Linked DNA regions of Homo sapiens: regions 2, 3 and 4 are each reported to be linked to region 1. The links are microRNA targets in miRTarBase. Many come from high-throughput screens and were not tested one by one. Region 1 holds a microRNA gene; each other region holds the end of a gene's coding sequence.

Region 1 (3,249 bases):
GTGCTGGGATTACAGGCTTGAGCCACTGTGCCCAGCTCTACTTTTCTTTTCTTTTTTTTTTTTTGTTGAGACAGAGTCTCCCTCTGTCACCCAGGCTGGAGTGCAGTGGTGCGATCTCAGCTCACTGGAAGCTCCGCCTCCCAGGTTCATGCCATTCTCCTGCCTCAGCCTCCCGAGTAGCTGGGACTACAGGCGCCCGCCACCACGCCTGGCTATTTTTTTTGTATTTTTAATAGAGATGGGGTTTCACCGTGTTAGCCAGGATGGTCTTGATCTCCTGACCTGGTGATCCGCCTGCCTCGGCTTCCCAAAGTGCGTGAGCCACCGCACCTGGCTGTCTACTTTTATTTTTAATAAAAAATTTTAAAAATACAAAAAAGTAAAAAAAAAAATTAAATTATGTTGACATTTTATATCAATAAAACTACAATGATAATTTGGTCTTACTCTGAGTTAAATCTTGAATACAAAAAAGTAAACAAAGTAAACAAGACCTTATTTTTGACTTATCAAACAAAAATCTTTGGCTAAGGATTTAAGAAAACATTTTAATAAAAACATGAAAAAAATAGTATACCATTATAAAGTTAGAAGACATAAGACTAAGACCCCAATCTGTGATGTGTAGCAAATTATTTGAGTTTTGTGTTTCCTTAGCTATCCAATGAGTGGGTTGGTCACTTGTAAGGGTTTTTCTACCTTTAAAGTTATGGTTAAGTGTGACGTTTTGACAACCAGAATTTTAGGTATTTAATTCACATATTTTGATGGCTTTTCCCCTTCAGATATAAAGAAATATTCAGAAACAGTACTAAATATTGTCTTCTAAGCTCTGTTCAAAATGCTTAATATATTTTATATTTATCTGTAAAGACATATTTTAAAAGTAATTTCAAAACAAAGGGAAAACTAGAATTTGTTTTATCCCAAGTAAAAATCTGAATTAATGTCTATGTTGAATATAAATGTGCATTAAAATAAATTCCTCTAATGCTGCATAAGCTTTTTAAAAAAACTTGATGGCATTCAATACAATTATTAAATTGCAATTACAGTATTTTAAGAGATGATACATCTGAAAAATTAGTATTAATTCATTTTTACAGAATCATACTAAAAATAACAAGATTATCAATAATACTGAAAAGACTATCAATAAAACTGAAAACACATTAGTAACATTAATATACATTAAAACACAACTGTAGAGTATGGTCAACCTTACTTCAGCAGCACAGTTAATACTGGAGATAATTTTAGAATCTTAACGCCAATATTTACGTGCTGCTAAGGCACTGCTGACATTGCTATCATAAGAGCTATGAATAAAAAGAAATATATTTTCTTCAGAAGATCAGATCCTTGTATTTTTGAGGCAGCACAATATGGCCTGCACCTTTTCAAAATCCACAAACCATTATGTGCTGCTACTTTACTCCAAGGTTTTATTTTTTTTAAACACACATTCGCGCCTAAAGAATATAAAAAATATTTTCTTTCAGGAAAAAAAGAATGCATGTAAAAAAATCTATGTTTAAACATTATAACATTGATGTAATATGCATAATTATTTTTAAGGAGATTTTAAGTAGAATAATAAAACATTTCTACATCAAAAACTTAACTGAAGTCCATTCTGTGCCCAGCACAGTGCTATAGGTTAGGAAACACAAAGAATAAAATGAGGAAAAGAAAAGCATTTATTTGCTATGCCAACTTAACAGGGCAATACAACTAAATGCTTAAACTTTTGAATATATTCAATATATGAAGTTATTTTTCCTTGTATAAACAAACAAGTAAATTTATAAAATTTGATCTTTACCTTGGTAAAAGGAGAATTTACAAACATTTTGTTCCTTGCAGTACACCTTTCAAAAGACATCTTCATCAAATAGGTAAGACTTCACATCAAGGGAAAAACATGAAATGACATACAAGAGCTCAGTTTCAATAAACTTAAGCTAGCAAAATGCAAATATACTTTTAAAGAAAAATACTTTAATTCTAAATGTTAATTTTATTAAATATCTAATTAAGACATTTTAATTCCAAATATAGTTAAGAAAAAAAGCTCTAAACAAACTAATTCTCCCTTAAATAATTTGTTATTAATAATCTAAATATTTTACTTTCAACATTGATCTTCATACTAGAAGTTCTCTTAGAGTTGGATATCATTTGATACAGTAATTCTAAAATATGAATCCTTAAGTAATTCTAAAATATGAATCCTTGGGATGATGAGTTAATTTGGTACCCTGAGATGAGAAATAAAACAAATCCCATAGCTCTTAATCTTCCTATTCCCTGTTTCTGGCCCATTTACCAGGTAAGGAAGAAACTCCTAGTTTCCACTTTCTCAGATGTAGAAATGAAATTCCTTTTCTCTAAAAGATATCAGAAAATTGCCACCACTCTAGTGGTGCCACCATTCAAGCCTGGACAATCTTTTTTGCCCCATGTTCTCATCATTAAAATGACTATGCTAAAGTTACATCTATTACAGAATAGTAAGGTGATGTACACAACCAAAGCACTAAAATTTGCTCTTCCATTCTAATATCTAATTACTTATACAAAGCACAGGGTCACATTCCATATGAAATTTTTCTGAGTATTTTTCCCATTAATAAAAAATATATGTAGCTAATCTCCTATCTAAGCAACCTGGATTTCACATATAACTCTGCTCCTTATTGTCTCAAGTTTCTGCACAACGTTTTTTAAATTTTTATTTTTTCTTTTTTTAAGAGAGTAGTTTCCGTATCTTTTAGAGAAAAAGAAATTCATTTCTACATCTGAGTAAGTGGAAACTTTAGGAGTATACTTCCTTACCTGGTAAATGGACCGGAAATAGGTAGGGAATAGGAAGATCAAGAGCTACAGGATTTGTTTTACTTCTCATCTCAGGGTACTCTGTTGCCCAGGATGGGGTACAGTGCCATGATCGTAGCTCACTGCAGCCTTGACCTCCTGGGCTTAAGTGATCAGTCCACCTTAGCCTCCCAAGTAGCTGGGACTACAAGTGCACACACCACCATGCACAGCTCTTTACATTTTTATTTTATTGTAGAGACAAGGTCTTGCTATGTTGCCTAGGATGTCTTGAACTCCTGGCCTCAAGCAATCCTCCTGCCTTGGCCTCCCAAAGTCCTAAAATTACAGGCAAGAGCCACCATGCCTGACCTGCACTTTTTTTTTATTTTTTGAGACGGACAGGGTTTCACCATGTTAGTCAGGCTGGTC
Region 2 (3,249 bases), not on the chromosome of region 1:
AGTAACCATGTTTTTATATTCTCAATTTTCATGAAAAAAAATCACACAAAAAGGAAACTGACTATTTTTAAGTAAAATATCAATTATAATTGTATATCACTTGCTTTCATGAAAGTATTCCAAATCATTAGGAATGATTAGGTAGTCTTTTTGTGTATCTGTTTCTAGAAATCTGTTTGTATTATATAGTTTTTCTATTAAGAACTTTTTAAGAAATCTCTTCTGGGGGCTTTTGTTTATTCTTAGTAGTTGGAACTAATGTAGTCTGACTAAAATACACATGGGTGTCTGCTCTGTGATGTTTAAACTTATCTGTTTTGTTTGTTTTTCATTTCAGGAAGCAGAAGTGCAAGCAAAGCAGCAAGCATGAACCTTAAGCACTGTGCTTTAAGCATCCTGAAAAATGAGTCTCCATTGCTTTTATAAAATAGCAGAATTAGCTTTGCTTCAAAAGAAATAGGCTTAATGTTGAAATAATAGATTAGTTGGGTTTTCACATGCAAACATTCAAAATGAATACAAAATTAAAATTTGAACATTATGGTGATTATGGTGAGGAGAATGGGATATTAACATAAAATTATATTAATAAGTAGATATCGTAGAAATAGTGTTGTTACCTGCCAAGCCATCCTGTATACACCAATGATTTTACAAAGAAAACACCCTTCCCTCCTTCTGCCATTACTATGGCAACTTAAGTGTATCTGCAGCTCTACATTAAAAAGGAGAAAGAGAAATAACCTGTCTCTCATTCCTAAGTTGCCTCATTAATTTTCATGAACAAGAATATGTACCTTTTTGATGCTATATTACTGCGATTAAAAAGTTCTTGCAGGTAATGTTTATGATATGTTAAACGTTGTAATTTCCTATCGTAATTATAACATTCCCATTCTTTTGTAGATGAAACTTCTACATATTGAACCACAGATTTTCTGAGCTTCTAAATGTAGCCTTTCATTGCACATTTCAGTGATCAGAATAGATATCCTTTTACACGCACAAAAGCAATAGATTCATTCAGTGGACAAGTTCCTTGTTTAACTACACAGCTATGATGGAATGATATATCCAAGTTCCTTGCCTCAGTGAAATATGCATATGTATATCATGAAAGTGGGATGCCAAGTAAGCTTAAAATGGCATTCTCTAGCAAAGAGATTAGACTTTTAAATAACTCTTATAAAACAGGTTGGCGATCATTTCCCAAGATTGGTTTCCCTTGAGTTTTTGCTAAAACAAATCTTAGTAGTTTTGCCCGTTTAAAACAACTCACAATCGTAAATGCTACTATTCCTAAGATATCTTACCTTTTTATTTCAGTTTAGCCATGTATTGTATGAGTGTATTAGTCTAAGCAGTGAGAATCTTTTCTATGCCTCTATTCCAGCAAAAAGTAGAAGTATCAAATAAAAAGGGCAACTTTTAAAATATTAAGCCTGAAGACTTCTAAAAAGACAAGAAACATGGCCTAAATAACCAACATAGATTTACATAGTAAGTTTCACACTACCTTATTACCAAAAGCAAACACCTCTTACTTTAAACTACATTATCATGTATATCTATTGTATGCTGGTCTTTACTTTTTGCCAAAATCAACATATAATGAAGAGATGCCTTTGTTTCATGAGATTCAAACTTGATGCTATGCTTTAAAATAAACTCAGTACTTTTAGAAACATAACTTATGTGTTCTTGGAGTTTATATAATAGTAATTTTAGATGAGTAATATCTTTTTTTAGAGGGTTGGGAATGCAAAAAGAGAAAATAGTAGAAAGAAAAAGCTTTGAATGCAATTCAAGGTTTTCGTTTTCTATGTTTTCTTTTTAGGGCTTTTAATCTCACAATACACATGAGGTCAAATGAACAATTTTATTGGGTTTACAAAAATACGGCATAAAGAACTCTAGAGAAAACAGGGTGCTTTGTAATACACTGGAAACGCAAAAAAAGTTTTTTAGTCAATATTTTCTCCTAAGCTTTATTAAATGTTGCTGATGATACTTGCAATATTTTATGTGGTCATTTTCACTTTTATTTTAATGTCAAATAAGTTAACACTGCCAAAATGGGCATTCTTTAAAAATAGATGTATTTTTTGCCATGTTTATATAACTTAAAATTAACATAGTATATTAAAGTAAAAGGTTGAATTGAGTCTTCCTAAACTGAAATATTTTATTTTGTCAGCTGAGAAATATGTTTTGTAGATACAAAAATGCAAGTGAAATTCTGAATATGAAGGTGAGTTTTATTTAAAAAAATCTCCAAAATATTTGGCCGGAAAATATAATCTTTGCCACTTGTTATATTACATTCAGATTGTTTCTGTTTGTAAATCAGACTTGTTTATTTGTTATGTTCAGTTATTGAGCTGGTTTGTTCTTGGGAATATTTGACTCTCAGGAAGATTTTCATTTTCACCAAACAATGCAAATTGGACGTCGATTGCATTGTTAAATGTCAACATTTCTTTGGGAGTCTGAGTGTAGGGGTAAACAGAATTTTAAAACAGAAGTTGTTAATTACTTGCTTGGGAAAGTTTAAATACAGAAAATGTTGGTGAAGTCAGATTTCATTGCACATATTCCATTCATTCAGCAAAAGGAAAAATGAGGATTCACATGGATTTTATTACCCAGTTGTGGATGCTGAAAAATATTGAAAGGTTGACATTGGTCTAATCTTTTTAATGTAAAATACATATTTCTTTTCTTTTGAAGAATTCCAACAAAACTGATTAAGAAACATGCACATTTGATTAATTTGAACCTTCTAGTCTTCTGCTTCCACCCATCATTCTTCCCCTGTATCTATTATCACCTTCCTTTATTTAGCAAACAAAATTTTGAAATCCTTTGTAAAGAGTACTATAATGTTACCATAATTCCTATTTTCACACAATTGTCTTTTTAACATCTTTACTGAGATATACAATTCACATACTGTAAACTTTGCTCATTTAAAGTGTATAAGGCAGTGACTTTTACTATATTCACAGAATCATGCAACCATCACTAAGATTTAAGTTTAGAATGTTTCATCACCCAACAAATAAACTCTACCCAATAGCAGTCACTCCCCATCCCCCACTCCCTCAGCACTATGCAAACACCAACTTACTTTCTGTCTCTGTGGATTTACCTATTCTAGACATTTTATATAACTAAAGTCATACAATATGTGGTCTTTTGTGGTTTGTGTCTTCTAGTTACCACATTTTTGAGTTTCATCCATGTTGT
Region 3 (3,249 bases), not on the chromosome of region 1:
GTGGATCTACTTTCTTCACCTGTCTCACATTTGCCCGTGAATTCTCTATGTGTAGAAACAAAATTAATTTCTTTACAAGATCTATTAAAAATCTGTTGAAATTAACAGATTGCTGTGTGTATTGTGAGAGAATGGAAGCAACCAACAAATATTTTGGATGTCCAAACTACAGAAACATCCCTCAACTTGGAATCTACCAGTTCCTGATTTTAAAGATGGCAAAAGAACGGAAACTATAACCCTGCATGCTGTGTGGTTTGCATTGTTAACCCAAGTTTGCTTGTCTGTTTCCTAATTCACACAGAGCGTCAGAAGCCATGATGCATGTAGTGTGTGTGTACTGCAGCTGGAGTGGGCCCCAGACCAGGTATTTATAGACACCATGTTAAGCCTTCCATCCAGTTGTCATCTGTGATCTGACAGTCTGTATCCGCAGCAGTTTGGGAAGTTAGCATTTGTCATTCACCATTTCACCTTGTTCAATCTGGTTACAACTAGCCTATATGCATTTGTATTTTGGCATGCATACATGGATATGTAACATAAACTCCTGTTTAAAAATGGATTCGTTATTAGAACCATCCAACAGGGAGAAAATCCCAGTTAAAACAGTGTCTATTATATCTACCCCATCTTGGCTACTATAAATATCACATCAAGAATATTGGCCTCACAACACTTTGTTGTTGGAGATAACTATGCTTTCATGGGTTTCATAAGTGCCTTTCCTCTGAAAAACTGAAAGCTGTTCTTTTACATTACTGCATACAACTACCTGGAGTTATAGAGGGTTAGAAATTTTAATTTTGTTGAAGAAGAAATGGAAACTTAGGCCAGAGGACTTGTCAGGGGTGACTCTGAACAACAGGAACTAAGACTTTGCTTTTCCTTCTGTCTCTGGCCTGACAGATTTTCAGGAAGCACTCTGCTTCCATTTCCTCTGATGTAAATAATGGTAAACATCAGCTCGAATACATTGGCTGACTTACTAAGAGGAGGAAAGATGGTCTTTTAAACCAGCATCATAAGACTTTGTAGGAGTTTGCAAGCTGGTTGGAATTAGATACATAGCATTTAGTTTCTCTTCTTTCTTTCCTTTTTCTTTTCCTTGTAAGGATAGGTTAAAAGCAGGCATAGTTGAATTATTCTTAATATCCACTGTCCTCATCCTCTTCTCCTGTCATTCTGTAAACTGACCTAGTCCTCCCCTACGTTTAGGACTTAGGCTAGTGAAACTGACCTTCTCAGCTACAAGAGGACTATATGCTACTTTTTTAGTACAAAATTCATTGAGGGTGTGTTCACCTTGACCTCACTTGTTTATAACTAACACACAAATACCAGAAGGCCCTTACCATACCTCTTTATGTTGCTTACATGGATATTTCACTACAGTGCATTGTTTCTGTTAACATTAGTTCAAAATTCAACCTCTTCCAGAGTCAGCCTTAGTTTTAAATAAAACTAATAACTGTTAGACATCTGGTGGTATGAAAATAAAAAAACTAATAACTGTGTTTCTAGACTCTAATGGGTATAGCCTAAACTGAGATAAGTGCAGTTTTCCTTTTTACTCCTAAAGTGTAAGTAAGGTAAGATTGTTTCATGGGAAGTCAATAGCTTCCTGAAACAATGCTTTGTCTTCTCATGCTGTTAACCAGTAGTTTATTAGAATGATTTAAAGCCTTTTGAATATAACTGCTTTGCTGCTTTTTAAGATCAAGCCCTCTTGTTGGATGTTAACATTTAGTACTGAGCATTTGAGTTGCATCTGTCCTAATAATAGATTGTATTTTGAAGTCATTTTTGTTACTGACCTTTTGATTTTTATTTTTTATTATTATTATTTTTTATTTTGACTGAGTTTCACTCTGTCACCCAGGCTGGAGTGCAGTGGTGCAGTCTTGGCTCACTGCAACCTCTCCCTCCTGGGTTCAAGCAATTCTCCCACCTCAGCCTACCTAGTAGCTGGGATTACAGGCACCCACCACCACGCCTGGCTAATTTTTGTATTTTTAGTAGAGATGAGGTTTCACCACGTTGGCCAGGCTGGTCTCGAACTCCTGACCTCAGGTGATCCACCTGCCTCGGCCTCCCAAAGTGCTGGGATTACAGGCATGAGCCACTGTGCCCAGCCCTTTTTGATTTTTAATTAAAGATCTTACAATGGTCGGGTGCGGTGGCTCTTGCCTGTAATCCAAGCACTTTGGGAGGCTGAGGCGGGCGGATCACCTGAGGTCAAGAGTTTGAGACCACCCTGACCAACGTGGAGAAACCTCATCTCTACTAAAAATGCAAAATTAGTCGGGTGTGTGGCGCATGCATGTAATCCCAGCTACTCTGAGGCAGGAGAATCGCTTGGACCCGGGAGGCGGAGGTTGCGGTGAGCTCAGATGGCGCCATTGTACTCCTGTCTGGGCAACAAGAGCAAAACACAGTCTTAAAAAAAAAAAAAAATTCTTACACTTACATGCGTAGAGGTCAATTTTTAACTGGATTGGTGGCAAAAGAAGAGCTGGAAATGATGTTTAATGATACTATGATGCTTACACTGAGCCGTCTTGTTTGGGTGGTCTAAGGTAGCAGTGAATCTAAATAGTCATTGCCAGTTGAAAAACTATTAATGAACCATCTCCCTCCACATTCCCCTTTCTTTAAAACATTTAAATATTCTTAACTTAGTTGCACACTATTGATGTGATAAAAACTTATAAGCCTTTTAAGTTTAGAGTTGTATTATTTGGTAGGATGATGATTGTGATTTAATCTGCTGATCATTAGTTTACTTTTGTTTTCTGAGTCAGATGCTCACCCAGTTTTACCATGATTTTTGGAAAGCTTGGCTAGAAATAAAATAGAACATTTGCTTCTCTGTCCCCAAGCATTATGTTATTTCTTATTTCTCTTTATAATTCCCTCTCTGTCCAGGTATACCTGGTTTAAGACTTCTCATTTGTAACCTCAGTGTTCACATTTGAAACAAGAAAAGTGCATTAACATGAGAATCATTCTGGTGCAAAGATTCTCAGGATTTGTAATATCCTTAAGAATCACCCAAGGAGCTTATTGAAAATGCACATTCCTGGATTTACTCTCAAGTATGGTACCCCAGGGTCTGCATACTTCACAAGCGTCCCTGGTGGTTTTAGGGCAAGTGGTGAAAAAAGTACACTTGGAGAAACTATTCTAGAGTTGTAGACTAGACTAGGGAATAAAGAAACATAAATGTCCTTCATTCCTGAGCACTAA
Region 4 (3,000 bases), not on the chromosome of region 1:
AAATATTTCTTCTCCAGTCTGCCTTTATACATGTAGAATGGTAATGTAATTTCTAAAGTATATACAGAAGCATTCCAGAAATTAATTGCTATTTTAAATAATCATTTTATCTCAAAAAATAAGTAAATCATTTTAACAGTTATGCTTTTTCTCAGTTATATATTCAGCATGCTAAAGAGGACGAAACTCGTTATCATAATGAAATGAAGTCTTGGGAAGAACAAATGATTGAAGTTGGACGAAAGGATCTTCTACGTCGCACAATAAAGAAACAACGAAAATATGGTGCTGAGGAGTGTTAAAAGTAGAAGATTGAGATGTGTTCACAATGGATAGGCACAGGAAACCAGTTAGGTCTCAATACCTGAAGCTATCGTAAAATTAAGAAAGGATAAAGTTGGTAAACCTTTTATATTTAGTATCTTTTTATTCAGCTCATGGACTTCTGCCAGCATAATACTTGCTTTGGAAAACCCAGATAAAGGTTCATGCAAACTTTATTTTGTGTTTAGGAACTACTGAGGATCAGAGTAATCCAAGCAAATGTGAATCATTTTACCTTTGACAAAGGTAAATCAGACTATGAAGTTTTTTTTATACAGGATGATGACTATGGAAAGAGTACTCTTGTTTCCTTATATTATGGAGGCAGGAGTTTCGTTTTCAAAATTGTTACAAATTGTAGAAGCCACGGTGTTCTGTGATATAAGTGTGTGTTTTTCATAAAGCAGGCAGAACTCATCTAGGTAAATTACAGTTCCTAGGTATAATTCACATTGTATTCAGAGTTGATGGTTGTACATATAAGTGATTGCTGGTTTTAGTTGCAACTTTGTATAAAAGGGACTGAGAAATTTATAAACTTTTTTCTTACTGTCTTTTTTCTAAAGTAAAAACAAAGAAATTATGTGCCAGATTTATGCATATTATTTTATGTTGCATAGAATAAAATTTTTAATCTTTAATTTTACATTTCCTAAATATATTTTAAGACGAAACATTTGTTCTATAGCTTTTCCCTTTTTTTAAGTAAGGAATTTTATTTTTTTCTGAATTATTTTCTCTCGTGAGTATATTGATCCAGAAAGAAAACTTGTATTATGTGTGTTTTAAAATGAGAAATCTAAAAAACGAAAAGTCTCCAAAGTCTCTGGAATTTGAAACACTTTGCATAACGTATAAAAGCCTGTTTAAGAGACAGCCAACTATGGCCTGTGGATCAAATCCAGCCTGCTGCCTGCTTTTTATGGCCTGTGAGCTAGGAATTGTGTTTATAATTTTAAATGTTTTTTTTTAAAGACTTTTATGATACTTGAAAATTAACATGAATATTTAGTGTTCATAAATAAAGTTTGTTGAAACACAACCAAGATCATTCTTTTACTTGTCTATGGCTGCTTTTCTGTGGCAGAGTAGCTGCCACAGAAACTATAGCCCACAAAGCCTGATATTTACTGTCTGTCTGTTTATGGAAAAAATTTATCAACCCATGGTCTATAGTATAGTGTGATATGACTACTGTTCCAATGTATTGAAGTGTTGGGATAGTTTTTTCAAATGTTTTCAGATGTTCTTGTTTTAGAATCATTGTCACCTTTAAGAGGAAAAAGGTCATCACTAGATAATCTAAACAAATTGTTGCTTCTCAGTGTTAGCAAGGAAAATAATCTAGTTTCAAATTACATTGCAGTATAATGAAAAAGATCCATATACTGTGGAATGATATTCTTTTAAAATTATTTGCTATGGCTTGGTAAAAATGTACTTTTTCCAGTAGCACATATCACAAGAACCTCACTGTAGTTGAAAGCCATCTTTCTTTAGTATTTGTTTATCCTTTTAGGAGAGTCAAGCAAAGGTTTTCACCACCTGTTTGAGCAGAATAATTCTCATCAGTTCACAGATATAGGATAACTCAATTTATATGCACTTTATGCGTTATGCAAAATATTTAGAAATTGTAGATTCTAGATCTCCAGAAAGACTTTGAAGACTTTGATGTCACAAAAAGATGACTTGTTATATGCTGAGCTTGACAAAGGTAGGAATGGGAGAGAAAAATAGTAGCTTATGAGGAAATATGAGGCTTTAAATATATAAAGTTGGATATTTTAAAATAACTTTTCCCTGTGGGAGCTTCTCACTCTGGGTGCAGACAGGACAGTGTTGGCCATTGGTGAAATAGATAGGATGGGTTTGAGGCCAGAGCAGTCTGGGAGTAGGGGGAAAGAGAAGGAGGTGTGCTAGTGTCTATCACAGGCTTTCTCAATTAGGTTTGCAGGAGAAAAAGCCCTAAGTCCCTGTGTCATCTAGAATGGTACTAATTATGTACAGTCCCTAGGAGAATGGAGAAAATCATAACTCAAATCATCGACTCAATTCTGTTCTCTTCAGATGAGCTCAGAGAGCACATAGGAGTGTTTGTAATGAGGGGTATGTAATGATTGAGATAGAGGAATGAGTTACATAAACATCTCGGGACAAATGCAGCATAGAAAACATCTTTGTAGTTACCCTGCGGGGAAATTTCCTCTGAGTTCTTTTAACATTAACTACCCGTATTATTTTATACTTAACATTCATATCATACCTTCCCAAATATATTGGGAAGTTCAGTGTTAAGTACGTTTCTCAAGTACTTAACAACTTAATATAGGGAGGAAAGGTGTAAACAGTGAAAAAAGAGCAAAACTATTTTATGGTAATTTTATGGTAGTATCAGCTTGTATTTGGTTCTCTGTTTCTAAAATAATGTAATTTTTAATATTTTAAATAATAGGATAACCTGGTTTCCAAGCCTTTTTTTCCCCCGACATCCAGAATACACACTGGATCCAAGCCTTTCTTAAACATCAGTACATGTGGAAGACTGGCATGCCATATACCAAATGCCATTCAGCTGTAACAGTATACACAGATTTTCTCTTATAAAGAATAAGAACATCATAACCAATGACCACTCATATAAAGTCTTATTTGTGTGTGTGTGTGTGTGTGTGT

The links. Region 1 holds the annotated microRNA hsa-miR-15a-3p (CAGGCCAUAUUGUGCUGCCUCA, at 1,372-1,393, opposite strand). A microRNA usually pairs through its seed, bases 2 to 8, with sites in the 3' UTR of a target mRNA and lowers its output. Matches are read on the target gene's strand: a 7mer-m8 pairs with bases 2 to 8, a 7mer-A1 pairs with bases 2 to 7 and ends in A, and an 8mer does both.
Region 2: the mRNA of SH3BGRL is a reported target of hsa-miR-15a-3p. Seed matches in the 3' UTR shown: 8mer at 1,470-1,477.
Region 3: the mRNA of DDI2 is a reported target of hsa-miR-15a-3p. The part of its 3' UTR that is shown has no 7-base or 8-base seed match.
Region 4: the mRNA of TFAM is a reported target of hsa-miR-15a-3p. Seed matches in the 3' UTR shown: 7mer-m8 at 1,208-1,214 and 7mer-m8 at 1,247-1,253.

The regions. Positions count from the first base shown.
Region 1 is chr13:50,047,759-50,051,007 of GRCh38, forward strand. MIR15A (microRNA 15a) reads right to left here and starts at 1,443; the gene lies at 1,361-1,443. It overlaps DLEU2 (deleted in lymphocytic leukemia 2), which reads right to left. Exons shown (of 14, transcript NR_152566.1): 6 at 1,826-1,904. It overlaps MIR16-1 (microRNA 16-1), which reads right to left and starts at 1,303; the gene lies at 1,215-1,303.
Region 2 is chrX:81,296,858-81,300,106 of GRCh38, forward strand. It overlaps SH3BGRL (SH3 domain binding glutamate rich protein like), which reads left to right. Exons shown (of 4, transcript NM_003022.3): 4 at 338-1,690. The coding sequence ends at 370. Among named protein-coding and RNA genes, the nearest start is that of SH3BGRL, 96 kb to the left of the region's middle.
Region 3 is chr1:15,656,313-15,659,561 of GRCh38, forward strand. It overlaps DDI2 (DDI proteasomal shuttling factor 2), which reads left to right. Exons shown (of 10, transcript NM_032341.5): 9 at 305-367. The coding sequence ends at 321. Among named protein-coding and RNA genes, the nearest start is that of RSC1A1, 1.8 kb to the right of the region's middle.
Region 4 is chr10:58,394,773-58,397,772 of GRCh38, forward strand. TFAM (transcription factor A, mitochondrial) reads left to right here. Exons shown (of 7, transcript NM_003201.3): 7 at 156-3,000. The coding sequence ends at 302. Among named protein-coding and RNA genes, the nearest start is that of TFAM, 11 kb to the left of the region's middle.